2 separate regions of the Homo sapiens genome follow, and region 2 is linked to region 1. Evidence: fine-mapped QTL for protein levels in blood plasma. A gene starts in region 1. The other region holds a variant in brackets. All regions are shown on one strand. Distances are from middle to middle. Region 1 holds the start of TMPRSS11D (transmembrane serine protease 11D). Region 2 overlaps TMPRSS11B (transmembrane serine protease 11B).

Evidence for each region. A credible set is the group of variants that fine-mapping cannot tell apart. PIP is the chance, under the fine-mapping model, that this variant and not a neighbour inherited with it causes the effect. Protein levels are from antibody-based Olink assays in UK Biobank. Linkage for the fine-mapping came from a reference panel and not from the study's own genotypes, which makes the PIPs less certain.
Region 2: its variant is the best candidate, but not a certain one, in a credible set for the plasma level of the TMPRSS11D protein (UK Biobank, PIP 0.68).

Annotation. Positions count from the first base shown.
Region 1 is chr4:67,877,980-67,893,830 of GRCh38, forward strand. It overlaps TMPRSS11D (transmembrane serine protease 11D), which reads right to left and starts at 6,023. Exons shown (of 10, transcript NM_004262.3): 1 at 5,947-6,023. The coding sequence starts at 5,954.
Region 2 is chr4:68,218,921-68,234,771 of GRCh38, forward strand. It overlaps TMPRSS11B (transmembrane serine protease 11B), which reads right to left. Exons shown (of 10, transcript NM_182502.3): 5 at 15,543-15,703; 6 at 13,458-13,496; 7 at 12,283-12,460; 8 at 10,337-10,596; 9 at 9,822-9,964; 10 at 7,733-9,152. The coding sequence ends at 8,991. Among named protein-coding and RNA genes, the nearest start is that of TMPRSS11B, 19 kb to the right of the region's middle. The variant G/A (reference allele first, on the strand shown) is at 7,925.

The DNA of each region.
Region 1 (15,851 bases):
CACATGTACCCCAGAACTTAAAGTATAATAAAAAATGAAAACGGGGTAATTTATAAAGAAAAAAATTCTAATGTAGTAACATCTCTGCCCTGCTATGTCTTTAACAATTTTGTGTTTGAGGATGTAATGCCAGATTCTTAATATAGTCTTCAAAAACCAGCATGATCTGTTTCTTGCCTGCCTTTAAGTTTCTGCTTAAACAATGCTTCCTCAGAGAAGTCTTCCATGAGCTTCTAGACTGGTTTAGTTTTCACTATTATAATACTTATTTCAGTGTCATCGTATTAAACAAATCATAATGAAATTACATATTTCCATGTTAATCACTGGAACAGTTGTCTTTTGGATTGGAAGGTTTGTAGTTTTCAGTAAAGACTACCTTTTGCTCTACTGAGATTTCCACAGAGTAAATGTTTTCAGTGATGGTTGTTTCCATTTATCTTGATTACCCAAAGTCCTTAAACTTTTCTTCATAGCACCACAACTATAATTAGATAGGTATTTGTCTAATGTATTTTAGTGTCTGTCTTCCCAGCAAGCACCATGAGAAAAAGGTCTGGGCCTTTTTGTTCCAGTGCTGTATATCTAGCACCTAACAGCTCTTCACTCAAATTAGACACTCAATGAATGAATGAATGAATAAAGTATAATATAAGGAGTAATTGGCCAGGCACAGTGGCTCACACCTGTAATCCCAGCACTTTGGGAGGCCGAGGTGGGCAGATCATGAGGTCAGGAGTTTGAGACCAGCCTGACCAACATGGTGAAACCCCGTCTCTACTAAAAATACAAAAATTGGCTGGGCGTGGTGGCACGTGCCTGTAATTCCAGCTACACTCAGGAGGCTAAGGCAGGAGAATCACTTGAACCCAGGAGGCAGAGGTCGCAGTGAGCCGAGATTGCACCACTGCACTCCAGCCTTGGGGAGAGAGGGAGACTCTGTCTCAAAAAACATATATGGAGTAATTATATATATCATAAAAGATGTATAAGTAGAAATAAAGCACTAGGATATTTAGGATTCAAATGGTTTATTTTGCCATATGATATTAAAAGTTGCTTTGAAGTAAGAGCATTTTGTGTTTTCCAGTGAATGACAGTGGACTTAAGGGACATTAGGGACATTCCCTAATGTCCTAGGGAATCATTAGCTTATGTAATATTGCAAACCATGAGACTGGTGGAATCACACAGAATGTAAGAAGAAGAAAAACATTTAAGGCTGGGCGCAGTGGCTCACGCCTGTAATCCCAACACTTTGGGAGGCTGAGGCTGGCGGATCACGAGGTCAGGAGATCGAGACCATCCTGGCTAACACAGTGAAACCCCATCTCTACTAAAAATACAAAAAATTAGCCGGGCGCAGTGGTAGGCGCCTGTAGACCCAGCTACTCGGCAGGCTGAAGAAGGAGAATGGCATGAACCCGGGAGGCAGAGCTTGCAGATAAGGCCACTGCACTCCAGCCTGGGCGACAGAGCGAGACTCCTTCTCAAAAAAAAAAAAAAAAAAGAAAAGCACTTAAACTCTGGGGACAGGAAAATTAGTAGAATCTAGTAACAGAAACTGAGAAAGTTTGACCCATGGGATAAGCAAAAAACCAGGAAAGAATGGTGTTTTGGAAGCTTTGTGAAGATCACGTTTCAAGAAAAGAATGGTCTCTGGTGGAGTGATTATGTAAACTCACTGAGATCTGACCACTGGATTTTGCAATTTGGAGCAAGACAAGAGCTATTTCAGAGCTGTGAAGATCAGAAACTATTTGCACTGGGAAAAGGGAGGATAGATTAAAGATAAAAATGCATATACCATGTGACTCGGAAAATCTATTTCTAGGAACATATCCAAGAGAAACTCTTGCATGTTTGTACCATTGGACCCGTGTAAGACTATTCAGTGCTACATTATCTGTAATGGCAATATACTAGAAAAGTCGATATTTAAGTTATGGGTCAGGCTTACAAAGAAATATTATACAGCTATGAACATGAATAAGCTATGCACACTTTATTGTATATAACATATATAATATTGATCTCATTTATATGACTTTCAAAGGCAGGTAGAATTAAACCATAAGTTTTTTAGGAATATATCCGTGAATGGTGAAACCATGAAGAAAATGAAAGAAATTAAGATACCATGCCACGTAACAGTTACATTGTGAAAGGTGGGGAAAGGTCAGTTCGTAGACAGGAGGTGCCCATGGGGTCTTCTAAGATACTGGTGATGCTATTTTTATTAATAGATGTCTCGTACCAAGAGGTTCACTTTTTAAAATTAGACTTTAAATGTGATGTGTTTAATAATAAAAAATTAAAAAGCAAAAGGAGAGAATGGAGGAAGAAAATAAAAATAGAGGCAATAGGTTTAGACAGATCTTTAGAATAGTTTTGCTTTTAAGAGCAGGAGATGAGAAATGACACAATAGCTGGACAGGAGATATGGGTCAAGGGAGGGATTTTTTTTTAATTGGGGATAGTATGGCGTGTCTTTATGCTGACAAATATTCAGTAGAGAAGGAAACATTACATCTTAATTTATTCTTGCACTATTAAATTCAGGTAGATATCTTGGCTAAGAAGTAAACTTGTCAGAATAAAAACTTGTCTAGTTTAGGAAAAATATACTCGGTGGCTTTTATTTATTTATAATTTTTAATCTTTTTTTTTGAGACAGGTTTTTGCTCTGTCACCCCAGCTGGAGTGCAGTGGCATGATCATAGCTCACTGCAACACTGAACTTCTGGATCCAAGTGATCCTCCTACCTCGGCCTTCAGGGAATACAGGGAATACTTGTACCACCATGCCCATCAATGACTTATTGCTCCACTGTCTTGAGCCCTGAGTGCATATATTATTTTATTAATCATTGATACGCTTGTTCAAACCTCTGGCAAATGGATATTGTAAATATTCCATAGAATCTGCTTTTTCTTTCTGCTGAATGACTCATCAGTATAAACTTTTCCAAAGTCCATTTTTATTTACAACTATCTTAGGCAGTTATCCAATTAATGACTTTAGATTTGGGATGGTGCTTTTGTTTTACATGTCATGAGCATATACTAAAGCTAGAGAAGGAATACTCCCCAAAACTGTGAAATCATGCCAAGTCTTCTTTGCTCAAAAGAATGGGATCCTTCAAATGGGAGCAATACCTTTTAAGAAATTGGATTGGATAACTGTAGGTTCCCTTACAGCAGTAAATATTGAATGAATCCCTTCCTTATGACTTATTTTAGGGGTGCCAGTCATAGCAATTTGGGAGTTGCAGTAGTGTGTTAAGTAAGCAATGAATTACTGAGAAAATAGATTGGGAGTGCCTTCTGGAAGACAAGTTGGCAGTGGCATGGGATAATTTGCTAGAAAATATATAATCCCAGATGACTGACTGCAGCTGATCTTCCTGTATGCAGGCCCGTCCCACACCATCATTAGAAAAACATTTGGGCCAAATGCAGCAGCTGTTTTAGCATGTGGCTCAAGATTTTATAGGCAACAACTTGTACTAGAAATGCACTATTTTGGGCTTCATGACTGTAAATACAAATTGGTGTCCACCTGCCTAATTTCTATGAAGAAATATGTTCTTTGCCTAATGATTTACAATTTTAAGCATGTTTTTCTGAGTTCCTATAGCAGTTCAAAAACCAGGATTGAAACAACAGGCAGGATTTGGAATGCGTTTTTGACAGCGATGGCTCGTCCCCCCGCCAACTTTTGTCTCAGGTTCTTTTGGACTGTTGGGAGGCAGGGCATCTGATTGTCTTTGGCATGTCTCTGCAGTCAGTTAATCATGTCTTGAGCACAGACAAAAGGGAAGAAAATGGAAACAAGATTTGTTTGGTAGGAGGAGTCCTGCTAAGACTTGTCTGTCCCTGAGCTGAGATATGCTCATTTACCTTAAATCTTTCCATAAACTACATTCCAAATTCCAGTTTATAAATCTTTATCCTATTTCCCAAACCTCATCTCACACGTTTTCTGTAATCTGGTGGGCACAGATATTCCCTTGGTGAACCTGAGAAAATCTAGAGTGACCAAGGATCTGAAATGAGTAACACAGCTGTTCAGGTTCCTGGGCCCTACGGTAGGATTTCCTTCTTCAGACAAGGGAAGAAGGTAGATAAAGAAAGGAGCATTTCATCTTGCAGCAGCATGGAAGAGAGCTGGGAGTTTAATTTTTTATAAAAAAAGCAATCAAACCATCCAAGGCAGCCAATTTTCAACCAAAAGTATTTCAGAATTACCTGAAGATTTATCTAAAATTATGCCAAAATTACCTACAATTACCTAAAAAAAGTATATTGTACAATTTAATTTTCCTTCTGTTATTTGATATGAATACCTAGCTGCTATTTATTAGTAGTAGATACAGGCTATTAAAGAGATAAAATATTCCAAAAAGTGTGATCCTTAGAAACCAAAATTCCACAGAAGAGTTATTTGTAATTGGCAAGGTTGGCTCTGATTGAGTGTCAAATTTCCTGTACAATGATGGATCAACTTAGAAATTTGATTGATTCAAAGCCTTCTGAAATTGTACAACTCTTTCAGGATTTGTATCATTTACATGTCTTCTTTTATTATTTTCCATTGAATGATGTTTTGATATACACTTGACTGCTTATAAGGGCAATATTTTAAAATCAGAGTAATTTCTTTAAAATTAAAATATTTCAGCAAAATACATTTTAAAATGCACTATATTACCCAAATAATATTACACTTATAGATGGTTTAAGAACAATAAAAAATATAATTCATAAACTCACTGCTTTAGTATAACAAACCTGATTAATGTTCTATGTTCTTTATTAGACTTTCTCCCATGTATAGCTTTACAAAGTAGTAGTTGATGAGTAAATACAATTTTGTGATTTGTTTTTTTCACATAAAATAAGAACAAACTCAGTATGTAAATTACTTCATAGGTTTTTAAGCTACTTTAATACATTTCTTGTATCTATTACATGAATATGAAATGATTTTATTTCTTCTATCATTGGAAGCTTAGACAGCTATCCACTTTTCACTCATATATATATATTCAAGTGCATATAACTGTATATATATTTTTATTACTTAAAATGGTTTGACTTTTGATTGAATTTTCCAATGTTCAGGAGATTTAAAATAAATTCAGCTGCACTTATTATAGCTAACACATTGTTCATGCTTTTGTTGATCCTTTCAGCATGACTTATCAGTATCATGTTTTCCTGTAGTCATAGAAAAATAATATGCATAATATATACACTTAAGTGCACACATAAACATACCAAGTTACATAATTATTTCATTGTTTTGAGATGTTAACGTGTGACTTGATTATCTCACAACTTTTTTCTTTCTTTATGTGAAAGTATAGGAAAATACTTATTCATTAACTAAAAAGAAAACCAGAGAGAGATTATTTTCTCTTAAATGTTAGCAAGAACTTTCTTGAAAATAATTCTACAACTATATAAAAAGTAGAAAAATACCGTCTTTACTTTCTAAAAGTGTACTTTAGGATTTATGGCATATTTATTTAATAGCTAGCAATAAAACTGTAATGGAAGTCAAAACACAGAATCCTCGAAAAGTTCCAAACAACACAAGAATTGTTTACTGATTGCAATTTTAAAATCCACACACCACTTTTCGAAATGTTGCACATGAGAAACAAAACCACTTCCTTATTTAAAGATATGTTGTCATAACGCTAAGCTAAGTATTTTTGTGGTTGTTTTATAAAAAATTCAGTTAAGCAACTATGTACCTTATGAAAATAATATCAAGCATATTATCTAAACAATATCTAAGAGTTTCGATGAAGTTTTCAGAGAAGTAACTAGAAGATTGCTAGACACAGTCAAAATTTGCTAAGCTTCTTTATATTTTTCCCATACTGTAAGATATAGTAAAACTTTTAAAGCTACAAAGACAAAAACAGGACTTACCTATACATTTTAATCCTTAATGAAGAGGTTCTTTTTTCTGCCTACTCAACTGCTTTGAGATTCCCACTCAAATGAATGACTCTCATGTATTACGTGTGATCTATAGTTGAGGACAAAGGAGGAAATCTCATGTTAATTAAAATCTAACTTGTTAAACAAGTTTGAGGGAATCAACAAACCAATAGTATGACTTGTGGAAGATAATTGGAAATAGACAGGGAATTTCACAAATTAGTAAGAAATTTATTTATTCTGGTAAATTGAGATTAAACACAATTACAATTGACAGGTATTTTGTGAAAGCCTGTGACTACTTCACAACTGTAGAGTCACTTTTAGTTCAAGAGGATTTGACACTTATTTTGCTCATGTTATCATATTGTTATACACCTCATTCCTCAACACAGCCAGCCAAGATCCATCAGAACATACTTTCCGTACATTAATGGGCACTACCTCTGAATTCCCTCATCTGTATGATTAAATGCAGTTTTTCTCATAATATATGAAACAGAGCATAATTGAGTAGATGCACAAAGTAAGACAAGCAAACAGAATAGTTGGAACTAAAATCCACTTTGTTTTTTTCCAAATATGATCATTTGAAAAAGCTATTCTAACACACTACTACTAGAAGAGGAGCAGACAGAAGAAGACAGTATGAGTGTGTAGGGTGTTAGGGTAAGGATGGAGAGCTCAAGAAAACAGGCAAGACTAGCAGGGAGGGGAAAAAGGGCATTCCTGTCTAACATTGCAAAGAAGCAGGATATAAATTTGGAAGGTTATACTGGGGTTACTTTGTGAGAACTAATGAATGCTAAAGAATTGGAACTTGTAATAGAATTATTACAATATTATTAGTAGTACAATATGAATTCTAGTCTTAGCTTTTTCACCAACTAATTGTGTAGCTTAAGGGAAAAAATTTACTTATTTCTCCATAAGTCACATGTATCTACTAAGAAAAGTGGAAGCTGAATCAGGAGGTCTTAGAGGACTCTCAATTATAAAATTCTATGACTTCATCTTGTAAAGCACTGACAACTAATGGTTAAATTTACTCCAATACTGCAACTTCAGATGTGTTCAGTTACTTGACTTTTTCTATATAATGTGCAAATCAAACAACAGAGACAGGAATAAGTGGTTACTTATATGTTTTTTCCCAAATATATTTGGGAAATATATTTTTTACATACAGTATCTCATGCCTGACATTCTGCCATTGATTTTTTAGCAATAAATAAATAACTATAATAAGATTTAAAAGTTTAAAAAATAAAGTTACCTAAACAAACCATTTTTAAATTTTACATGTTAACTTCAAGTACCTTTAAATATAGTTATATCATGGTATATAATTTTGTATTATGCTTTTTATACTTAATATTATTTCACAAATATATCGCTATTACTAATTTTTATTTTTAGTAGCTATATATTTATAACTTTGTATTTTTATATAATTTAAAACACAAATATGGTACCAAGATTCATTAATTATTAGCAGTTTTAATGGTTGCATTTTAAAAGGTAAATCACATTACATTGAATGGACTTATCATAAAGCACCAAAGTTATTTTCTAATGTGAAGTATTTAGACATTTTCTATTTTTTTATTGTAGATGATTCTTTGAATGACCACCTTCACAAACATAGTTTTTCTTTGTCATCCTACAGTTGAATTTTTCTTCAGAATAAACTGAAGAGGCTTATTGAGCCAAGTGATTTAAATATTTTAATGGCTTATAAAATTATACTTTTGTTTTAATAATTTTTACTAGGATTTAAAGTGTTATTTTCTGTTTTTTGCTTACAGAAATTTTCTCTAATTATGCATGCTCTTTCTTGTATGTCTTTATTTCCTGGAATACTCAGCAGCAAAGGCCTTTTTACCACGTAGGTACTTACTCATCATATGTTGTTTAGATGTCTCATAATTAACGTATTAGTGCAGATCCCAGTGCCCTATTACTATTCACAACAGAACGTGGGGATGAGTCGGGGGAAAGGCATGGGGAAAATTGAATTCAGTCTGAAAGTGACTTCCCGCATGATGAGCTCAACGCAGAAAGGGAGGTGGGGCAGGAAATTATGGTTTGTGAGGCAAAGGAATTGTTCATAACAGGGACCAGTTTAAAGATGTTGACTCTTCATCTTTAGATCCTCAGGGAGTGGCAGGATAGGCCTTGACCTATTCTCTTTTTAAGAGATTGCATGAATGAGAAATGTAGAATCACGTTATACAAAAAATATAAGAGTCCTCTGCCTTCTGGTTACAGGCTGATTTTATTCTTCTGGTTGAACAGTCACAAAACCAAGGCAGCTAGACTGAGAACGAATGACAGGAACAGTTTTCAGGGACATAGCAGAGATCATTTATATTTCTGGAAGATGAACTATGCAATGTAAGAACTATTAAGATTGGTTCTTTTGCCTGCTGATGGAGAGAGAGTGTGGTTAAGAGACCCATGAAATCTTAAACTCTGGACATATTTCCCTGCAAATGTGTATTAACACACTTCGTTTAGAAGGAAGTATGAATCATTCAATGTAACCGTCATAACAATATTAGCAGAAAAAAACAACCAAAAAGCAGATGACCTGAGAAGGTGTGGGCCAGTAGTGTTTTTCTGAATTTGAAGTTTGTTTAGTCGTCAAGTCCAGGAAAGCACAGTCATATGGCTATGGTAGACAATATATTCGTCATGACCTCCCTCACAGAGTTACTGTAAAAATAGAAAAAAAAAAAAAAGATAATGGAGGTGCTCACCATATGAAAGCTATAAATGTTGTTTAAATGCAAGTATTTATATTTGTTATAAATGTAAATTTTAAAATTGGGTAATAATTGGATTTTGCAAGTGTGGCTAAATATAATTTTGTGGCTTATGACATGCAGGTAGTTGGAGGCAAAGGTACAAGTACATTCTATCATTTTTCAAAGGCATTTGTCTATTCAGAAGGCATGATGTAGTAGAAACAGTATTCTCCTTGGAGTTAGAGTACACTTTAAGTAAAATCTTGACTCTTCTCTTTACTACCCAGCAAGGTCAGGAAAATTATTTATCTCTGTAAGCCTGAGAGTTTTTTTAACATGTAAAAATTGAGTTAAAATACCATTCTCATAGAGTTGCAAAAACTACATTTAGTCAAATCAAATCAAATGAACTAATAAATGTAAAGCACTTGTCATGTTCAGTAGTTCGTAGAGTACTTGTTCCCAAGGCAGTGTGTGTGTGTGTGTGTGTGTTTGTGTGTGTGTGTGTAGGGGAGAGCTCATACAATTTGAAACTGGTCCTGGATGTTTCCAAAATACTGCCCCCACCCCCGCCCCGCTTAGATTGGCATGTTCTTTTGCTTCTACAAATTGGTCTTATTCCTAAAGCATTCATACAAACATGGTTTAAGAAATACAACACTCATTACAACCTGTGATGGCTTTCATGTTGACAGTTATTTTCTTATGTTTTCTACAAGTAATTTTTTTTTACCTGCACTTAACCATAGGAGGCCAAAGAAACATCTTGACTAGAGGCATTCTTTAATCTTGTTAAAGAAAGAAGTGTGGTTACTGTAGCCTTGTAGTATAGTTTGAAGTCAGGTAGTGTGATGCCTCCAGCTTTGTTCTTTTGGCTTAGGATTGACTTGGCGATGCGGGCTCTTTTTTGGTTCCATATGAACTTTAAAGTAGTTTTTTCCAATTCTGTGAAGAAAGTCATTGGTAGCTTGATGGGGATGGCATTGAATCTGTAAATTACCTTGGGCAGTATGGCCATTTTCACGATATTGATTCTTCCTACCCATGAGCATGGAATGTTCTTCCATTTGTTTGTGTCCTCTTTTATTTCCTTGAGCAGTGGTTTGTAGTTCTCCTTGAAGAGGTCCTTTATGTCCCTTGTAAGTTGGATTCCTAAGTATTTTATTCTCTTTGAAGCAATTGTGAATGGGAGTTCACTCATGATTTGGCTCTCTGTTTGTCTGTTGTTGGTGTATAAGAATGCTTGTGATTTTTGTACATTGATTTTGTATCCTGAGACTTTGCTGAAGTTGCTTATCAGCTTAAGGAGATTTTGGGCTGAGACAATGCATGGTACTGGTACCAAAACAGAGATATAGATCAATGGAACAGAACAGAGCCCTCAGAAATAATGCCGCATATCTACAACTATCTGATCTTTGACAAACCTGAGAAAAACAAGCAATGGGGAAAGGATTCCCTATTTAATAAATGGTGCTGGGAAAACTGGCTAGCCATATGTAGAAAGCTGAAACTGGATCCCTTCCTTACACCTTATACAAAAATCAATTCAAGATGGATTAAAGATTTAAACGTTAGACCTAAAACCATAAAAACCCTAGAAGAAAACCTAGGCATTACCATTCAGGACATAGGCGTGGGCAAGGACTTCATGTCCAAAACACCAAAAGCAATGGCAACAAAAGCCAAAATTGACAAATGGGATCTAATTAAACTAAAGAGCTTCTGCACAGCAAAAGAAACTACCATCAGAGTGAACAGGCAACCTACAACATGGGAGAAAATTTTCGCAACCTACTCATCTGACAAAGGGCTAATATCCAGAATCTACAATGAACTCAAACAAATTTACAAGAAAAAAACAAACAACCCCATCAAAAAGTGGGCGAAGGACATGAACAGACACTTCTCAAAAGAAGACATTTATGCAGCCAAAAGACACATGAAAAAATGCTCATCATCACTGGCCATCAGAGAAATGCAAATCAAAACCACTATGAGATATCATCTCACACCAGTTAGAATGGCAATCATTAAAAAGTCAGGAAAAAACAGGTGCTGGAGAGGATGTGGAGAAATAGGAACACTTTTACACTGTTGGTGGGACTGTAAACTAGTTCAACCATTGTGGAAGTCAGTGTGGCGATTCCTCAGGGATCTAGAACTAGAAATACCATTTGACCCAGCCATCCCATTACTGGGTATATACCCAAAGGACTATAAATCATGCTGCTATAAAGACACATGCACACGTATGTTTATTGCGGCATTATTCACAATAGCAAAGACTTGGAACCAACCCAAATGTCCAACAATGATAGACTGGATTAAGAAAATGTGGCACATATACACCATGGAATACTATGCAGCCATAAAAAATGATGAGTTCATGTCCTTTGTAGGGACATGGATGAAATTGGAAACCATCATTCTCAGTAAACTATCGCAAGAACAAAAAACCAGACACCGCATATTCTCACGCATAGGTGGGAATTGAACAATGAGATCACATGGACACAGGAAGGGGAATATCACACTCTGGGGACTGTGGTGGGGTCGGGGGAGGGGGGAGGGATAGCATTGGGAGATATACCTAATGCTAGATGACACGTTAGTGGGTGCAGCGCACCAGCATGGCACATGTATACATATGTAACTAACCTGCACAATGTGCACATGTACCCTAAAACTTAAAGTATAATAAAAAAAAAACATTAAAAAAAAAAGAAATGAAAAAAAAAAATAAAATAAGAAAGAAGTGTGTATCCTTTACCCCTCTCCTAAGTTCTCTGCATCAGTCCCCTTTGAGCTGCATAGAGTTGTTTTCTTATATGATGAGTAATTTTCACTTTCCTGCATGCATTCACAAATTTTACTCTTGTAATTTTCCTCCACAATGAGAAAAGCAATCAGAGCACATAAATATAATACATTTAGTATGCAACATCATACATTATTTCACCTACTGGAGGGTCTGGCTGATAAACTCTGTTATTAAAGAGATACTACTATGTATTAAAATAGATACTACATAGTATCTATTTTAAGAATTATTACATTATAAATTTATGACTATTGGTCTTAGCTGGCCCTTCAATACTGCCTAGCAATACAGCTAGGTTTCCCTGGTCAATGTCAAGCATAGGGTTTATTAAAACCATTTCAAATCTTTCTACTCTTCCCCAGTATGAATTTTCCATTCCTTATTCACTGCACTTGCTTTCAACAGATGACTTACCTTTCTACTATTGGAAAAACAAAAGAGAAGCCTTCAGATGGACACTCCCTCCACTTCCTGCTATCATGTCTACAGATCTGTACCCATCTGCCCATATTCTTCCTGTTTTAGCAGAAGAGGTTTTCTCATCCCTTGGGAGCCTAATCTTTTCATTGTGCTCTGTATTCACGTCTTCTTCTTTCGTTTTTCTAAACCTGTTTCTCCAGTATTCCCTATTTCCACAAGTCCACTCCCATTCACCCAGTTTTGAATCCCAGAAACCTAACAAACTAAGGTGTCATCCTTGACTGTATCTCTTTTCTTGGTGCCCTATATACATAAATATTTATTGAACCAATTTCTTTCCCTCTCATCCTCACTGCCACCACATGACTCCAGGCCACTGTAATCATTAGCTTGATTACTGTCACAGCCTTCTGATTAGCCCTTCTGCCTCTAATCCTTTTCCCACTCTGGTTTACTCAGCTGCAAGAATGATGATTACAAATTGAATTATGTTACTATTCTTTTAAAAACTCTTCAATAGCTTCCCGTACACTTAAGATAGAATCTGTTCTCCTTAACATGGGTGGCAACGCTCTGTAGTATCTGGCCCTTGCCCACCTTTCATGCTTATTCCCACCATACCTCTGATACTCTACACTCTATCCATTGAATTTCTTTTAGTTACTTTAATATGCTGTCTCTCTATCCCTTCCAGTTCTGTTCCTTTAGCTTGGATTATCTTTTCCTACCTCTTTCAATAATTTTTTTTCTTAGTTCCGAAATCAGAATGATCACTAAGGCCTACTTGTAGGCTTTTTCTCTTTGGGTAGGTTGGTTCCTCTGCAGTGTGATCCAACATCAGTTTACTTCTCCTCTTATACTCATTACAACACTCAGTATACTTTTTTATTTTATTTTATTTTGAGACAGGGTCTCACTCCGTTGCCTATGCAGGAGTGCATTGGCATGATTGTGTCTCACTGTAGCCTTGAACTCCTGGGCTCAAGCAATCTTCCCACCTTGGCCTCCCTAGTAGCTGGGACTACAGGTGTGCACAACCATGCTCAGCTAATATTTTAATTTTTGGTAGAGATGGGGTCTTGCTATATTGCCTAAGTTGGTCTTAAACTTTTGGCCTCAAGCAATCCTCCTGCCTTGGCCTCCCAAAGTGCTGGGATTATAGAAGTGAGCCACTGTGCCTGGCCTCAGCACACTTTTTTGAAATTTGTCTACACAGTAGACAATAGAGTCCACAAAAGAAAGGATTGCTATGTTCTCAGAGCCTGTCATCCCTATGTGGCATGGGGTTAATCATTCATTTAATAATTTAAATAATTTATATAAATTACTCAAATAATTTATTTGAATAATTTTTGAATTATTCAGTGAGTAAATAAAACGTCACTGCTTTCTGCATACTGCAACTGTGTTTCAGCTGTTACAAAATTCACTCTTATAGCAGACATGGAGATATCCTTCAGATCCTTCTTCAAGATAAAGCTTGGTGCTTAACTGCAAAGAGTATGAGTATCTGTCTTTTAACTGTAGATTTGTTTTTTATTTTGGTATGGTGAGGCTAAGCAATCAGGAGAAGATTGTCAATGAAAAGACAGTTTGTTACTCACAATTCCCAAGAGGAGGGTGCACACCATGCCACACAGTGAAGCACCAGGGTCACTCAGAAGGAAAGGGGTGAAAAAGGTACTATAAGGAAGAGCCTTTATCATTGTTTCTGTGGTAAGGAACAGGTGGGATAAGGTAAGCAGGCTTAGGATTGGCTAGTTTGAATAATTTCAGGGGCTCTCAGGTGTAGGGGCTGTCATTAGTTGCATGATACCTGGCCCTGGAGTAATTAGGGCAAGGCCCTAATAGTGGCTTGGAGTATAAGGGCTCCATAAGGCAGGTGGTAAGGGTTGGCTTGCATGTGACAGGCTAGTCCTAAGCAGTCATTTACTATCTTTAGGAATTAGTTAGCCCTGGGTGGGGCAGTCCCTCCAGGGTCAATAAGGCTGCAGATGTGAAAGCATCAGAAAAAAAAGGACATGCTTAGTACAACCTGACAGTCTAACTGATAGGTTTGTCAGGGCCTTCCTCAGCTTTCAAGCCAAGAACATGTTCTTTTCCCAGTGGCCCCCAAGCCAATGATTGAGCAAGGTGATGATACAAGAGTCTAGCTATTTCCACTCAATATGGATTTCTCTAACAAGTAGTATTTATTTCAGAGTTCCCTGTTGGCCTGGGAGAAATTTTGTCAGATTGTCACTGCTGTCTGACAGCTGCCCCTGCCCAGTCCTGCTTCTTTCCTTCTTCTTTAACAGGTGTTACTTTTCAATAAACTTTTGTACTTTAACTTTGTGTAAGTATTTGCTGTGCTGAAACCCAGCTTGTAATAGCTGATACCAAGACAACTCCAGGAAAACAGGCATCAAGATGAGATTTAGGGACTGGATTATTCACTACCCAACTGGAAATGAGGTAGGTGGCAAGCTGGCAACCTCTAACAAGAGGTGGTAGTCTGTTGAAATTTTCATTAGTAGTGAGGTAGGCCAGCATGCTAGTAGAGGTGAATGCACAAGCCAGTGTGATGATTCACATATTGAAAGGTATGGGGGCTGGGGTGATAAACATAACGAGATGAAATTGCATGGTTGCTACTTGGTTGTTTTATGCCCAACGGGTAGATAAGGAAAAGCTGAGGACAATGAACATAATTGAAAAAGCTGAGTATGTGATCCAGAGACTCCTTTTGGTAGATTATTAAGAAGCCCTAACCTTATTAGTGGGTGAGCAGGAAAAGATGAATACCAAGCACAGAGTTGGATAGAGTGGCTGAATTTCAATGATGGTTAAATGCTCAATTGAAATAGATCTGCTCTTCCGAAGTCAAGGCTCTAGTTAAGAAAACCTGGGACCTGATGCATGGGATGTGGACATCTAGCTAGATGTCCTTGAAGGTTTTGACTCTGCAGACTTCTTTTGAACCCATGGCCTTGCAGAAGTGGCCCCACTTTCTTCAACGAGAGCTGGCACTGTGAAGAGATACTGGGGAGGCCTTTTCCCCACAAGGCAATAGCTCACAAATTAGGAGCTGTGTGCCTCTCCTCTCCTGGTCACCGGGCCTATCAAAGTTAAGCTGGTTATTATCATTACCAGCTGGGAATGTGTCAGGCCTGAAGAGGGAGGAAAGAATCTACATCCCAAAGGTGCTGCATAAAGTAGCCAGCAGGCAGCAGCAGAGACTGTAGGAGTGCCCTCTGTGGGAATGGATCTTGAGGGTGCTTGGTCAAGGGGATTGGAACATAAGACTGGATAAGGAAAGTTTTGTTAATTTGGGAGTAGTCTCTCAGTATACAGGATTTAACACCTGACACGGTGCCCAGGGAATGGTGTAAACTTGCTGTTGGAGTGGCTCTTAGGAGTCTGGAAAAAGTGATGGCCCATGCTGAGCAAGGTTGAAATGCTAGGATTGTTATGGGAGGCAGTAGGGGAAGGGATTAAAGGATTCAGAGAAATGGACATGGTGTAATGTATAATATTATGTGATGCCAGAAGACCCATTAGAAAATTATATCCCCTGGGAAAGTCCAGATAATAAATGAAGACCATTAGGAATATGCTGGTGAGAGGGGCACTAGTAGGGGATCAGTTTGTCTCATTTTGCCTGGGACAATCCAGGCTTTGAAATGGAAAGTATAGCATCCTGGAAACCTCCTCAATCCTAGGCAAACTGGCAAAGTCACCTTAGAGCAGTATCATTAAGTGCTGGCAGGATAGGCACACAAATGATATGGCCACAGTGGGCAAGATGGAGGTCCTGCCTAGGCCCAACAGTAAGGACTCCCACTTACCAACAACGATGTAACAAATGCCTCCTCAGAATGCCAACCTGTCGTCAACATAAACACTACACCTACTGGATA
Region 2 (15,851 bases), 340 kb after region 1:
AATAAAATTTAGCTTTTGGGGGTGTCAGGACAAAATTAATGTAAACTAAAAACAAACTGTATTTGTTGACTTTGTGAAACTTTCCGGACTGAGATGGTGTCTTAAAACAGTAGGCACACAATCTATGAGAATACAGTGGATAAAAAGTCTCACAAAAAGTGTGAGCCAGTTTTTACAGCATTCTAAGAATATATCAGGGAAAAAAATGTCAGAGAAGGGCATCCCAGACTTGGAGTACACCACTTGGAAAGACACATAATAGCATGTTCTAGAAATCCCAACTTATTGAGTGGTTGAAACATAGGCTACATGCAAGGACATGATAGGACATAAAAAAGAAGCATGTAGCAGCCAGATCCTGATAGTACATCTCATTTTTGTTCAGCTGGACACCATGACTACCTCCATGAAGCCAGCCACCAGTCCAGGACCACAGAGATGAAAAAGAGTCCTTGAGGGGCTCACAGTCTAGTAGGAGATTCAGATGCATAATTTTTACACCTGTGGAAAGTGTAGTGACAGGTGTAAACCTGGGGCAACCTGGAGCCACCATCCTGGGGATGTAAGGGAAGGCTACCTGGTGGGAGTGACACCTGAACTGTGTTTTGAATAATGAATAGGAAGAGTAAGTCAAGCTTTTTATGGATTTGCAAGTCATAATAAAGAATATGGGTTTTATTCCTTAAGCGTGGTGAGATAGGGAGGTAAGGGGAGGAGTAGGAGTTTAAGCAGGAGATAGAGGTGCTGCCAGACTAATTCTCCATGATCATTAAGATGCTTGTTCTTGAAGAATGCCATTATAGTACATTAAGGATAGGTAGGAGGACTAACAATTCAGAATTCACATTTTCTTTTAAAACAAAAATGCCAGATTAATTTACAACATAGTACCTCTCTGGCTCTTAAGTTACCTTCTCTGATGACGGCTTGGTTTGATTTTTTAAAATCTTCTCTTTTTTTAATCAAATGCCTGGGAAAGGTAATGTGGGAATGCTCTCTCATTACTCTGGTTAGTGATTTCTGTCTCATTGAATGTTGTCTTTAGCAGATGAGATAAATCTGACTTAAAGAGCATAAATCTAAATTTATAAAACCTGAGGTGGTTATTTAATGGATTCTTGTATAACATGTATTCCTATATTTAGTGAAAATAAAGTTTTGTTTACTCAACCATGAGTGTCTATTGTGACAAATTTTAAATGAAGATAATTAATTTTTAAGGCAACAACACAAGAAAGTATAATATATTGGCCGAGTGCAGTGGCTCACTCATGCCTGTGATCCCAGCACTTTGGGAAGCCGAGGCAGGTGGATCACCTGAGGTCAGGAGTTCGAGACCAGCCTGGCCAACATAGTGAAACCCTGTTTCTACTAAAAATACAAAATTAGCCGGGCATGGTGGCACGCACCAGTAATCCCAGCTACTCTAAAGGCTGAGACAGGAGAATCACTTGAACTTGGGAGGTGGAAGTTGCAGTGAGACGAGATTGCACCATTGCACTCCAGCCCGGTCAAAAAAAGCAAAGCTCCATCTCAAAAAATAAAATAAAGTAAAATAAAATAAAATTTAAAAATAAAGTTAATATAATTATTTAATTTTCACAATTAAGCATCATAATTATGCAGGACAACAACATATTCTAATATAATTGGATTATTTTGAAATCCATTATTCACTATGAACTGTAAGTCTGAAATGCCCTTAACACATATCATCATGAAATGTTTCAAAAACAGATTCTTCTGAAACTTTTTCCTGCATTGAAATTACGAAAAATAAAAACCAATAAGAAACTTTATTCACCACCATCAGTAGCAGGCAGTACTTAGGGCATTTAACAACACATCTGGCACAATGGCCAAAAGCTAGTTTGTAATGTTATGGCACAGAAATTGTGCTCCAGTTGCATCATCTAGTGAAGATTTCTTTCAAAAATATAAATGAGAAATAATTACATTCAGTGGTGTGGGGTTAGTGTCTAACAACGAGGTCTTGATACCAGTGGGTGGGAGCTAATTAAAAACGTTTGCCAATTTCCACAGTGTAAATACATCATGGTCAATTTCAAGCTATGTACATGACATCACTAACTATGAATTTAGGCAAGGATGAGCAGTAGCATTCTATTATATATCACCATCATATAGACACAACATATGCAAATAATCTCAAGACCATGAATACTAACAAAATGTAAAATAATGAAGACATAATGCATTTTGAGTATTTACTGCCTTTAATTTTTAACTATCGCTGTTTCACTCTGGCTCATATGATTCTTGAAGTTTTAACACTCAGTTCTTGTACATTGCTGCAAGCCAAATTCAGCACATCATTGCTTCACTTTAATTATTAAAATTTGCAAATACTTCACAAGTTTGAATTTTTGAAAGGACTTATAAAACTCTACACAGAGTACTCATATAAAGCTTTTATTTAAAAGTAAAGTATATGATAATTATACATTGTACACATGTATCAAAATAGCACATGTACTCCCAAAATATGTAGAAACAATTATATATCAATTAAAAATGTAAAAATAAGTAAAGAAAGCAAAGCAGCAAGAGAAAGAGTATAGGCAAGTATTAGGGGAGCCAAGAGATATAGAGGTGCAAATGCCCCATGGTCCTTATTCATACATACACACATTTTGTCTCCAGATTGAACCACCAAAATCAGTGTGATGAATCTCAACTTCATGAACACTCAAGGCAGAAGTTCTCAGTAGGATCTTGGGTCAGTAAAACAAAATGGCCCAGAGGTTGCTAGGAGAGTTTCAGACTTTAAACCTCACATAAATCTCACTGGACTTATTTTGGCCAAGAGCCAAAGCTAAGCAACTTTTTTCCCAAAGAAAAGCATTCCCAAAGAAAAGGATAGAGTTTTCCCAGTCCAGCTGTATATTAACTCTATCCTATGCAAAATCCAATAATGAAATTAACAAAAAATAATATTTCAAATATTTGTTACTCAGGATGATTCCACGTCCATGCTTTTGAAATGTAGAAGACTGAGAAAAGATGAACAATTCTATTTTGACATACTAATAGAAACTGCCTATTAGATTTTCACATGGAAATTTTAGAGATATGCCACTGAAGGTTCAGGGAGATGGCAAAACAGTGACTTCTAAAGCTACAATTAAAACACTTGGAAGTGGAGGCAGAGAGTTGGTATTGAAAGCCATTGAACTGGCATGTGTGGTGGCTCATGCTTGTAATCCCAGCACTTTGGGAAGCTGAGGTGGGTGGATCACCTGAGGTCAGGAGTTCAAGACCAGCCTAGCCAACATGGTGAAATCCTGTCTCTACAAGAAAAACAAAAAATTAGCCGGGCATAGTGGCAGGCACCTGTAATCCCAGCTACTCAGGAGGCTGAGGCACGAGAATTGCTTGAACCCAGGAGGCAGAGGTTGCAGTGAGCCAAGATCACACCATTGCATTCCAGCCTGGGCAACAAGAGTGAAACTCTGTCTCAAAAAGAAAAAAAGAAAGTCATCGAACTGGATAAGATCACTTAGGGTATGAGTATAAGTAGAGAAGAGGAGAGATATGAGCCTGAGCTCTGGGACAGTCCAACATCTAAAGTTGGGAAAGATGTGGAAGATCCAGCAGAAAAACTGAGAAGAAATTGCTAATGACATAGAAAGATTTCCATAAAAGATGTTTTTTTTTTTCTGGAAGCCAGATAAAGAAAGTGTTTCCATAAAAAATGATCAACAATGCTAAATGTTATTGATAGATTAATTAAAGGAAGAATTGAGAATTGAGCATTGGAATGGCAACACGAAACTCATTGGTGACCATGACTAATGCAGTTTTGGAGGAACATCTGAGTCAATATTTGGAGTGAGTTTGAGAGGGAATGAATGGAAAGGAGGTAAGGACAGCACTTTGAACTAGTTTCACAAAGAAACATAGCAGGAGAAGATGTAGGGTTAAAAAATAAGTATGTTTTTATCTGGAAGATATTGCAGAAGTTACTGTGTCTATGGAAATGATCCAGTATAGAGGGGAAAATTGATGACATAAACAGGGATGGGCAACAGTTATAGAAATAAAATCTTTGAGAAGGTGAGTACAGATGGGTTCTTAGCACAAGGGGAGAGTTTGGCCTTAGAGTGGTGTACAAACAGTTAATCCATTGTAAGAAAAAGGAGGATAGATGACAATAACAGCTAACATCTATCTTGCATTTGCTATGTGTTCTAAGTACATTACTTTTAACTCCTTGAATACTCCAAAACAACACCATGAAGTAGATATCATTCTTATCCCCATATCACATCAAAGAAACTGAGGCATAGTGATTTTAAATAATTTGCCCAAAGTCACCCATCTTGTACATGGCAAACCAGCGTTTGCACAAAGGCTGTTTAGCTCAAGTTCAGTTACCTATACTGCCCTTTGAGAAGCAAGTAGATTTGTAGATTTTTATGATAAGTGCCAGTAGAAACTCTCATCTGGTTCCTCTTGTTTTCTTGGTGAAACAATGAGCATGATCATCAGGTGAGTGTAAGGAGGAGAAAAAGACAGTGTTGGAGTTAAGAGCAGGAGAGAAGTGAATGAGTTATTTAGGAGAATAAGAGGGAGTTTTGGCTAAGGAAGTGCAAAGGGATTTTCAAAGAGCATTAAGGATATAACTGAGGTTCATGACTAAGATTTTAAAGAGTAGCCAGCATGATGTGTGTTTTTCTCCAGCTACAGTCAACAACTATGGTACATGCACTAAAAAGTTGAAGAGTTGGACTGAACCGTGTTTGTGGTTTTGCCGGGCTAGATAGTGAATGGGGAGATAGGGGCAGGGGCAGTGAGTGTAGATGTCATGACTGATCACAGTATTTAAGTCATAACAAATGGCAAATGACAAGCTCAATGAGGAGAACATGAAGATATTTTCAGGTATGCCAAAAAATAAAAATAAAAATTCCAGTCAATGGAAAACAGCTTCTAGCAGGCTTTGAGCCATTAGACCAATATCTAAGACCAAATTTTTATTTTTTATTTTTTTTTGAGATGGAATCTCGCTCTGGCTGGAGTGCAGTGACGCGATCTCGGCTCACTGCAAGCTCCGCCTCCGGGGTTCACGCCATTCTCCTGCCTCAGCCACCCGAGTAGCTGGGACTACAGGCGCCCGCCACCACACCTGGCTAATTTTTTGTATTTTTTAGGGGAGACGGGGTTTTCACTGTGTTAGCCAGGATGGTCTCGTTCTCCTGACATCGTGATCCGCCTGCCTTGGCCTCCCAAAGTGCTGGGGTTACAGGTGTGAGCCACCGCACCCTGCCTCTAAGACCAAATTTTTAAAAATAAACCTAAAAACATTTTTAGATACTTTTCATCACTTCGTCTCTTCTTTTCTGATTCATTTTCAGTGAAAACATTCTTTGAAAGCATTAATATGAAAGTCTGTGTTGCATAACAAAATACTGCCTTATGAGTTAAAAAAGAGTTCTCATACACTGATAAGTTGGAGATGTTTCTAGAGTAGACACAATCCTTGAACAAGGAAGTCACTTTCAAAAATTCCTTATTAAAGCCTAAACTGGTTGGTTAATTGGAGGCTTCACAAGAAGGAGGGAACAACCTTGTCAACTTTGTGCTATCATATATGGCATTAATTTTTTTTTCAATCTTTAAAAAAATGCCATTTTAATTAGCACTACATTCACAAAAAGATCTTGGCTTATGCTTCATAGTGCACAAGACTATATCCCTATCTTATATCACAAACAGTTTCATATTTCAAACACATAATTTTTTATGTTTCTCAAGAACATATGGACATTTATTAATAGCTGTGGTCCCGCTAGTCAGTAATGGTATGCTCTTTCTCAAATTCTTGCTCAATGGACTCCTTCAAAATGGACTTCAACTTCCCCTACTTAAAAACAGGAAGAAATAATTAAATTAGTCTAAGTTGTTCTTTGTTTTATTTTGTTTTGTTTTGTTTTGTTCTGCTTAGCTGGGGAATGGGGGGAGCGTAAAATATCTCCTTAATCATTCATCTCTGGTTTCTTTTCCATACCACTTATGAGTAGTAAAAGCATTTTATTTGAGAAAATCTTTTACTTTTTAATAAAATGGTGACTAATTTTGTAATGCAAATAATGATACTTTTGTCAATTTAGCATTTTAATTTTCATGCATTGTGATTAGTGTTGTTGGTTTTATTTCTCAAGGCAGACCTCTAATTCTTTGTGTGAACTTCTCAATGTGCTGTTAACATCAGAAGGCCAGGATGGCGCAGTCTATTACTACCAAAAAGAAAAAAAAACACTTACTTTTAGCTGATCCGTCACACATACAGTCCATATGAAAGTGAAGATTCTAAGTTGTTAAGACTGAAGTAAAGGCTACTATTGCACCCCATAAAGAATCCACCTTTGGCTGAATAATAACTGCTTTACCTTATGCAACTTGCCCCACCTGCTCCTTACCTCCACACCAAGCCTGGAGATTGGCCACTCATGCTATCATATCCCTCCTTGTTCAACCAGGAAGCCTCAATCTTGAGAAATCTTCACGCTTCATTTCTTTCTCATGGACCCCTTAGTCTCACAAATTCTCTTCCTCCACCAATCTCCCATCCTCCTCCAAATTCCTGTCCACCCTTTCCTTCCAATCACTTTCCTCTTTCTTCCATATTGGGGTTATTACTCATTCAGTTCCATTTGTTTTCCCTCTGGAAGAAGCAAGGGACAGACTGTGATTCAACTCATGATGTCGGGGATAAATTAAATGCTTGTAAACATCTGACTTCTGAATTAACTATCTATAAGACAAGGAAATCATTATACAGCCTGCAATACCTTTGACCTCTTAGTAATATTAAACTTTGTTCTACTTTGGGTTGCACTATAAAAGGATGTCTTCTGTTATCCTACCAAGGCATATTCCTAGCCCAAGGAAAAGGATGAATATGTGTTCATTTCTTACTAGGACAGCTGCAGTAGCTTTCTAACCAGTCTGCCTGCATTCTGTGCTCTTCACCCCCACTCCAGCCCATTCTCTTCATCAAAGTTATGTAATCTTTTCAAAGTGCATATTAGATTATCTCACTCCCTTTGCTTGGAAAACTCCTGGGCCTCCCATTGCAGTTAGAATGAAAATTCAAGGTCTTTACCATGGCTTACCAAGCGGTACTTGACTTGGCCCCCATCTACCTCCTCCATCTTCTCCCCTACCATCTCTCATTTATCCATGGGGTTTCAATCACATTGGCCTTCTTTCTGCTGCACATATCCACCTCACTTTTCTCTCTCTCTCTGGATCTCATACTTGTTCCCTTTGGATATCTTTTCTTTCATATGTTTTCCATGTTTTGGCTTTTCATCCTTTAGGTACAGCTCAAATGGCTACCCCCTCAGAGATGTCATTCAGACTTCCCAATCTAAATTATAGCTTATCTGCTCCATCATTTTCTATCACATTACTTTTTATTTCCTTTATAACATTTATCGTAATCCAAAATTATCTTATTTATGTGTTTACTGCCTATCTTTATTCACTAAATGTGGTATCCTTGAAGGAAGACATTGTATCTATACCTGACATTTCCTGAAACACACTAGGGACTCAATAAATACATGTGGCTGGCCTGAAACAGAAGTGAGGAGAGAAAGACACCATCTTGTCACAGATGGTTATAGATTTGCTTGATGTCAATATGCATATCATTTGAGCCATACTTTATAATAAAGAATAAAAGAGTAGCTCCACAAACAAATGAAGAAATGAGTACTTTTTTAGTTTATTTTAATGCCTTTAAGTTTTTGGTGACTTTTACATTTGGAAAATTACATAAGGTAAATTATTTGTAGAGATTACAAAGTTAGCCATCCATATGATTGCACTTTTACTATAAGGAGATGCCACACAGTTCTCTGCCCTTGATGACCTCATATTATTTTTGCTGCAA[G/A]AGAAAGCAAACAAATGACAAAAGGTGAATATGAAGACAATGGAAAATGTTATATAAATAATTGCCACTCAAAAGTCATTCTTTAATTCCTGACAAATTTTGGATGTCAACTCAATGAGGACAAATTTGTGTAAGGATAAATTTGTCAACTTATCACAGATGATGGAGAGTGACTTTAACCAAATCATTTCTCTTCTCTGGTCTTCAGTTTCTTGATCTGTAAATTGAAAGACTCAGTGTAGCTGGAGCTCTGATACTCCTTCTTCACTGCAAGATTGCATGATTTTGTGAGGTACATGAATCATTTCACATATAAGTTAAAAAGTAATGTACACTTTCGCACTTATTCCAGTTAATAAAATGAAATTATAATTGATATAATAAAAAGTAACTCATTTGATAAATCCCCTATATATGTTCTCATAGTTTCAAAATTTATATTTTATTTTCTTTTGATTCTGGAAAACAAATTAAGGTCAATTCTGAATATAATGGTAAAATGAATCACAACTCAGCTATTAAGAAAAATTATATATTAGCCTTCTTTATTTTCTTCTCTCCTTTTTTTTTTTTTTTTTTTGAGACAGGGTCTCACTCTGTTGCCCAGGCTGGAGTGCAGTGGTGGCGCAATCACAAATCACCACAGCCTCAACCTGCTGGGCTCAAGCAATCCTCCCACCTCAGCCTCCTGAATAGCTGGGACTATAGGTGCACGCCACCATGCCTAGCTAATTTTTGTATTTTTTGAACACGGATTTAGCCATGTTTCCCAGGCTGCCCTCAAACTCCTGGGCTCAAGCAATCCGCCTATCTCGGCCTCTCAAAGTGCTAGGATTACAGGCATGAGCCACTACACCTGGCCTCTTCCTATCTCTTACATTAATTTAAAAGATTAATAAATGCATGGACAGTGTTTTAGATATAATAAAATATTAATAAAGACATTTATATTTTTATATATAATAAAATGATTAGTTTACCAACAATCAAAATAAAAAGATCCCAAAGCCACAGATAAGGATAGCCTACAGTGGTCTTTATGTTCCTTTGTATAATTCCTTTTTTTTCAGAGTCCAGTCTTGGATGTAATCCAATTGCGATAAGAAGTCACTCGAGTATAGACACCTGGCTTATTCTTTTTACCACATCCATCACCCCAGCTTACTATTCCAACAAGATGCCAGATATTTCTGGAATCAGGGTAAGCTAGTGGTCCACCAGAATCATTCTAGAAGAAGAAAAGAAAAAAATGTTTCTTGTCTTAACAAAAAATTTCCTTTTACCTCTCCTGTGGAGTTATCTGTACCTCCTGGGCACTGAAACCAATTCACTCTCTTTGGGCTTAGAACTCTGAAACCCTTAGGACTTTTTTTTAAAACACAAGACAGCTACAAACCAGAATATATGGCCTAAAACTGCCAAATGTTGACTTGAGCAAACCAGAGTTTGACTTATATAATGAGTGCAGCTTGAATATGGAGAAGGTGACTTAGCTGCTTGCACTGAGCTTAAGTCTCTATGATGAAGCCTCTGAGGAACAAGTGGCATAGGCATGTGCCCAGACTCCTGATGCATCTCTGGATAAAGAGAAGACAACATTCTAGGTCTGCAGGTTGCCCAGAAAATAGGACAAAATTCATCTTGTAAACTTCTTCTAAGTGTTATTCTTTGTATGAATTCCCAGATTGAAAACTTCGTGAGGGCAGGATTGTGTTCACCTCCACGTCCCTAGCATGTAGGCTAGTGTCTGGTACATAAATGGAATTAATACATTTTTAGTGTATTGAAATACAAAGCTACTATGTCAGTATTATTAACACAAAAAAAATTTTATGTGGATAAAAACTTCCATTTGATTAACTGGGAGAAAACAACTGGATAATGTAACTAGACATACCTGACATGCATCAGCTTCTCCTGACATAAATCCAGCACATAACATTGTATCAGTCACAAAGCCAGAGTATGCATATGAGGCATTGCAAATTTTGTTGTCAATAATCTTCAAAAAGTCTTCTTGAAGTATCACTGGAAATGAACCTAAAAGCAATAAGTGCTGCATATTATGCAGATCTTAGACTTTGCTGGGACAAAGAATATCTACCTATAGCATAAAGCAGACTCTCTTGGTCACCAAGAGTCAGGCCAGTCCCAGGTTAGATTAGTCTCTTTCAGGTGTTTGTAATAGTTGGCTGCCTAACACATAATTTCAATTTTTCCAATTCCCATTCCCAGAGATATTTTAGGAAGTGAAGACAATTTGACATCATGCTTTTTGTCCCACCACTTGGTTTTCTTTTCAGTATATTTACTGATTGATTAATTGCATGAGGGGATGATTGATTGATTGATTGATTGATTGATTAAATAGTTATTCCCATGCAGCTATTATGATTTTACAAAAAAACTTACCATTCATATAAAGTGTTCCCCAACCTGTAACTACAACATTGTCATTTTCTGAGAGCTTCATTTTGGCTTCAGGAAGACAAATCTTACGAATGTACTCTGTAAAAGAAACTTCTTCAGCAAGCTGCACAAGGGCAATATCATCATGAAGCCCAGGACTGCTATAATTTTCATGAAAAATAATGTTTTGGACTTTCCGTGTCATATATGGTTTATTTACTACAATTCCAAAGTTGACAGTCCAATCTTTTGAATTATTTTTCCTAGAGGACACAATGTAATTAGAATACACTCAGTTGCTGGGTCACAACACTGTTCTTAGTGGTGATTATCTCATAATTTTAAGGCATGAGGTTCCCAAACAAAACTATAAACCACTGAAATTCTATTTTGAAAACTATCTTTGACATGGAGCTGTTGTAAATGTTGCAGTCACTTAAAAATAATGCTAAGGACTCAGATTTGTCAGCTTTCTGAAGATCTTTTCAAGTAGAGTCACTGATGTTTTCCCCTGCTTATTCAGTTCCATCCAGTTTCTGAACATTTAATTTGGTCAGGAATCACATGAGCGTCCTCAATTCCGTAAGTGGATGGGGTCCAGGATTAGTCTTATTGCCACATACCCTTGGTTTCAATAGCTACTTTTTTTACCCTCACCCTTCTACCACCCTCAAGTAGGCCCTAATGTCTATTGTTCCCCTCCTTGTATCCATATGTACTCAGTGTTTAGCTCCCACTTATAAGCAAGAAGATGTGGTATTTAGTTTTCTGTTCCAGCATTAATTCATTTAGTTTGGATAATAGCCTGCAACTGCATCCATGTTCCTGCAAAGGCCATGATTTTATTCTTTTTTATGACTGGATAGTATTCCATGGTGTATATGACCCATATTTTCTTTATCCAGTTCACCGTTGCTGGGCATCTAGGTTGATTTCATGTTTTTGCTATTGTGAGCTGTGGTGTACATACAAGTGCATATGGCTTTTTGGTAGAACAATTTATCTTCCTTTGGATATACTCAATTTTTGGGTCCAGATTAAATTTTACGTCAGATGGATATGCTGTCTTTCTTCAAATTTCCATCGTACTTACTATCTTTGTAATACGTGTCATGTTTACAATACTATACAGCCTCGTACTTTTAATATATGACATTTAAATTTTCTCAACTAGATTATAAACTTCTGGATGGCAAGACAAGGAAGCACCTAGTAACTGGAGTCAGACACACTTGAATTCACATTCAGTTTCTATTATTTAAGAACTAGGCTGGGCATGGTGGCTCGCACCTGTAATCCCAGCACTTTGGGAGGCTGAGGCAGGCGGATCACTTAAGGTCAGGAGTTCGAGACCAGCCTGACTAACATGGTAAAACCCCGTCTCTACTAAAAATACAAGAATTAGCTGGACATAGTGGTGCGTGCCTGTAATCCCAGCTACTCAGGAGGCTGAGACAGGAGAATCGCTTAAACCCAGGAGGCAGAGTTTGCAGTGAGCTGAGATCGCACCATTGCACTCCAACCTGGGCAACAGATTGAGACTCCATCTCAAAAAAAAAAAAAAAGAGCTGAGTGATCTTAGCCAAGTTTTGTCACCTTTCCTGAGTGAGACTTAGTTTCCTCATCTTCAAATGGTTTTAACTATACCTTCCATACAGAATTGAATGTTGTGATTAAATGAAATGATGTTAAGTAAAGCACTTAATGTCAGGCCAAGGTACCTATTTGGAAAATGTTAATTAATACTTCTATTTGCTTTTCTCTCCTTTCTCTAATTTAAATGCATTTCCTTTCCTGCTCTTTAATTACGCAGGTGATTGTAAATGTTCTATGTGATTGTAAATTTCATATGGCCTTGGTGAACCTTGACACATTAAGTTAACCCCTACAAACTATCCAAAATAGTTTTGCACCTAGCATCCTTCATTTAGTCAAATTTTCAAACTTACTTAGCAAAGCAGTGAGCTGCAGATAATAGCCACCTGCTGCTGATCAGAGAGGCTCCACAGTAGTGACGGCCTTTCCATTGCATGCTGGCCTGCCATGGCCATGCCCCCTCCAGGGAGCTTTTTCCATTCACAATTTTGTTGCCAGTTATGATACTGTTGGCTACTTGTCTCCCACAACCTAGAGAAAGGATTTATTTACACGAGAGCAGGTATCTTTGATTACGCATTATAAAAAAATATATCATTAAAAATTACTTGAAACCTTTCAGTGATTATTCAACTTCTCCTAATTGATGACGTTTCTTTCCTACAAGATACTCCTGTGATGTTTCTGTATTCTATCTTGGTTTGAGTGGTTCTTACTTATCCTCTTTTCCAGTCTCAAGCATCTTTCAACCACTATTTTTTGTTGTGTCTATGTGTTATAACTCTTGTCTCTCTAAGCAGATTCTTGAAGGAGGAGCTTTGCCTCATTGGTGTCTACATCTTGCATAGTATATGCACTGCTGTCTGTAAGACACCATGTGAACAAAAGATACTCCATAAATATCCATGGAGTGAATGAATGCATAAATGTATCTTGTGGAAAACATGATACTCTAAAGAGAATTTATTTAAAAGATGTAACAGGACAGCGATATGCTCCTATAGGCCCAGCTACTTGGGAGGCTGAGGCAGGAGGACTGCTTGAGCCCAAGAGTTCCAGGCTATAGTCCACTGTAATTGCACCTGTGAATTGCACTCCAGCCCACACAACATAGCAACATCCCACCTCTAAAGCAAAAAATAATAATAATTTTTAAGATGCAGAACTGTTTTTATCTTTAATAAATATATTTTATATAGCCTGGTTTTATATTTTCTTCTTATCCTAAATTGTCATTTCCTTCAATCTTTCTCATTTTAACATATTCAAATATGATATTTTTCACTCACAGTTTTATTATTTGGAATCAATTTTCATTTAACTTTTTATATATTTTTTAATAAATGTTAAAATTAATAGACCAGTGTTTTTCAAAGAGAAATTCTAAGTCAATATCTGGTATATCTAGTAATTCGGAAAGCGTGTTATGGGATTTCCACATGACATATTTCAAGTATTTTTAATAGAAAAATAATGAGAAAATACCTGTGAGTCCATCAAATTTATAATTAAAAGGTCCTTAACTTACAGTTGTTGGTAAGCATTTCAGAAGCAGCCTTGCTGATTTCTGAAAGTGAAAAACAAAACAAAATATAAAATTGAGCAAATATCACCAAGCAATTGACTTCAACCTAAGAACATAAATGCTAACTTTCCTAACCCAATATTGTCCAACATTTAACTATTTGGAGTAGTTCAGGTATTTTCAGCCCCTCTGACTCTTATTTGTTACATTATAACCATCTCTCCATATCTCTACTAGGTAGCCTAGAAAAAGAGAAAAGGGAATAAAAAACAAAAATCAGTTTTATGATTATTGAAGTAAAATATTCAGTGCTGTAAGAAGCTGGCACCCTTACAAATTGTTTTTTTATTATACTTTAAGTTTCAGGGTACATGTGCACAACGTGCAGGTTTGTGACATATGTATACACGTGCCATGTTGGTGTGCTGCACCCATTAACTCGTCATTTAACATTAGGTATATCTTCTAATGCTGTCCCTCCCCCCTCCCCCTTACAAATACTTTTAAGAGATCATGATAGAGATTTCTTTCCCATGATAATTCTCTTTACTCTGAAATGCTCAGAATTATATATATTTTAAGGAAAAATGTCCCAATTAAAATTATACTTCACTGAGCCCATCCTGCTCTTTAGGGAAATCTCCTTACTAAGAATGAATCATGAAATTTTGAGAACTTAAATTTAAATCTTTTTCCTATTGGTAAAAGACTTTAGAGAGAAGGAGAAGAGGAGGAAACTAAAGAAACACTAGAAAATGCTGACTATACTCTATGGGACACAGAAAGAGAGTAAACAACGTATCCCTCTTTCCCAAAAGCTACTCACAGAAAAATTTTATTGCTCCCTTGAAAAGTTCTACCTCAGGTTCCCTTCTTATTAGTGGTTCACTGGTAACGGGGTCTTTATTGTGTGGCAAAAGAGCGGTAACTGGCAGATGTTGCTGGCCTTTCAAGCCCTCGAAGACCCTAGGATTAATTGTCTGGCTGGAAGAACCATGAAACTGGACTCTGAAATCATATGCTTATCACCTAGCTGGACTTTTAACAATCCAAGTGACAGTTTCAAGACCTTTGCAAAACCTTCACAATCTTTACAAACTTCACTTTCTGTAAGGAGGCAAAATCTTATCATTTTTCTGTGAGAAGCTTTTGGGAAAGAGGGATAGATTGTTTACTCTCTTTCTGTGTCCCATAGAGTATACTCAGCATTTTCTAGTGTTTCTTTAGTTTCCTCCTCTTCTCCTTCCCTCTAAAGTCTTTTACCAATAGGAAAAAGATTTAAATTTAAGTTCTCAAAATTTCATGATTCCCTTGTTTTCTAGGGAATTTTCCAGACAATTTTTTTCTTTAAAAGTGGTATTACTCCAGTTTTTTCACAAAAATCAATAAGAACTCCCATCCCTAACATTGTTCTTAACTCCTGCAGTCTCCTTACTGAAAGACCAAGAAAGCCCTAAATCTGCTTTCTGTCATGAGATCCTGACAAAAGCAAGGAGTAGAAAAGAAAGATACTTTGCCTGGGCTCGGTGGCTCATGCCTGTAATCCCAGCACTTTGGGAGGCCGAGGTGGGCAGATCACAAGGTCGGGAGTTCAAGACCAGTGTGACTAACATGGTAAAACCCTGTCTCTACTAAAAATACAAAAAAATTAGCCAGGTGTGGTGGCGGATGCTTGTAGTCCCAGGCTGAGGCAGGAGAACTGCTTGAACCTGGGAGGCAGAGGTTTCAGTGAGCCGAGATCACGCCACTGCACTCCAGCCTGGGCAACAGAGCAAGACTCCATCTCAAAAAAAAAAACAAGAAGATAATTCAATTAGAACCCTTCACCCCCTTTCCCATGCATAATAGCCAAACCCTTCCAAACTTACATCCATGCTTGCAGTGTAACCCTCATTCCTATCATTCTTCAGACAATGATTCCATGGCACTGCCCTTTCCACTACCAAGTCATTGCTAGGGGTGCCAGAGTTAGGTACGCATATTTTTTTCCCGAATTACTAAAACTCTTAGTTCACTTTTTAGTACTTTTTAAAAAAATAATCCAGAAAAAACCTATGTAATAGAAAATAATGGAAATAAGTCAAATACCCATGAGTTTAATGGAAGCAGGAACTGCATTCCAGGATGCCATGTTGTTTTTCAACATCTGATGTAATTTAGCCTTGATTTTAGTCCTCATGCTAACTCCTTCTGCTGGAGGAAACTTGAATTTCAGCTGTAACTGCACATTTGAACCATTGGCATTAGGCCTAGAAACAACAGAAATTTTCTAATGTACTGTTTCTTGATCTTTTAGAGGTTTTGTGAACACATTAAATTTCACACATTTTAATTATCACATTTTCTTTACATATATTAAAGAAAAATATACATATACTATCTAAGCATGTATAAAAT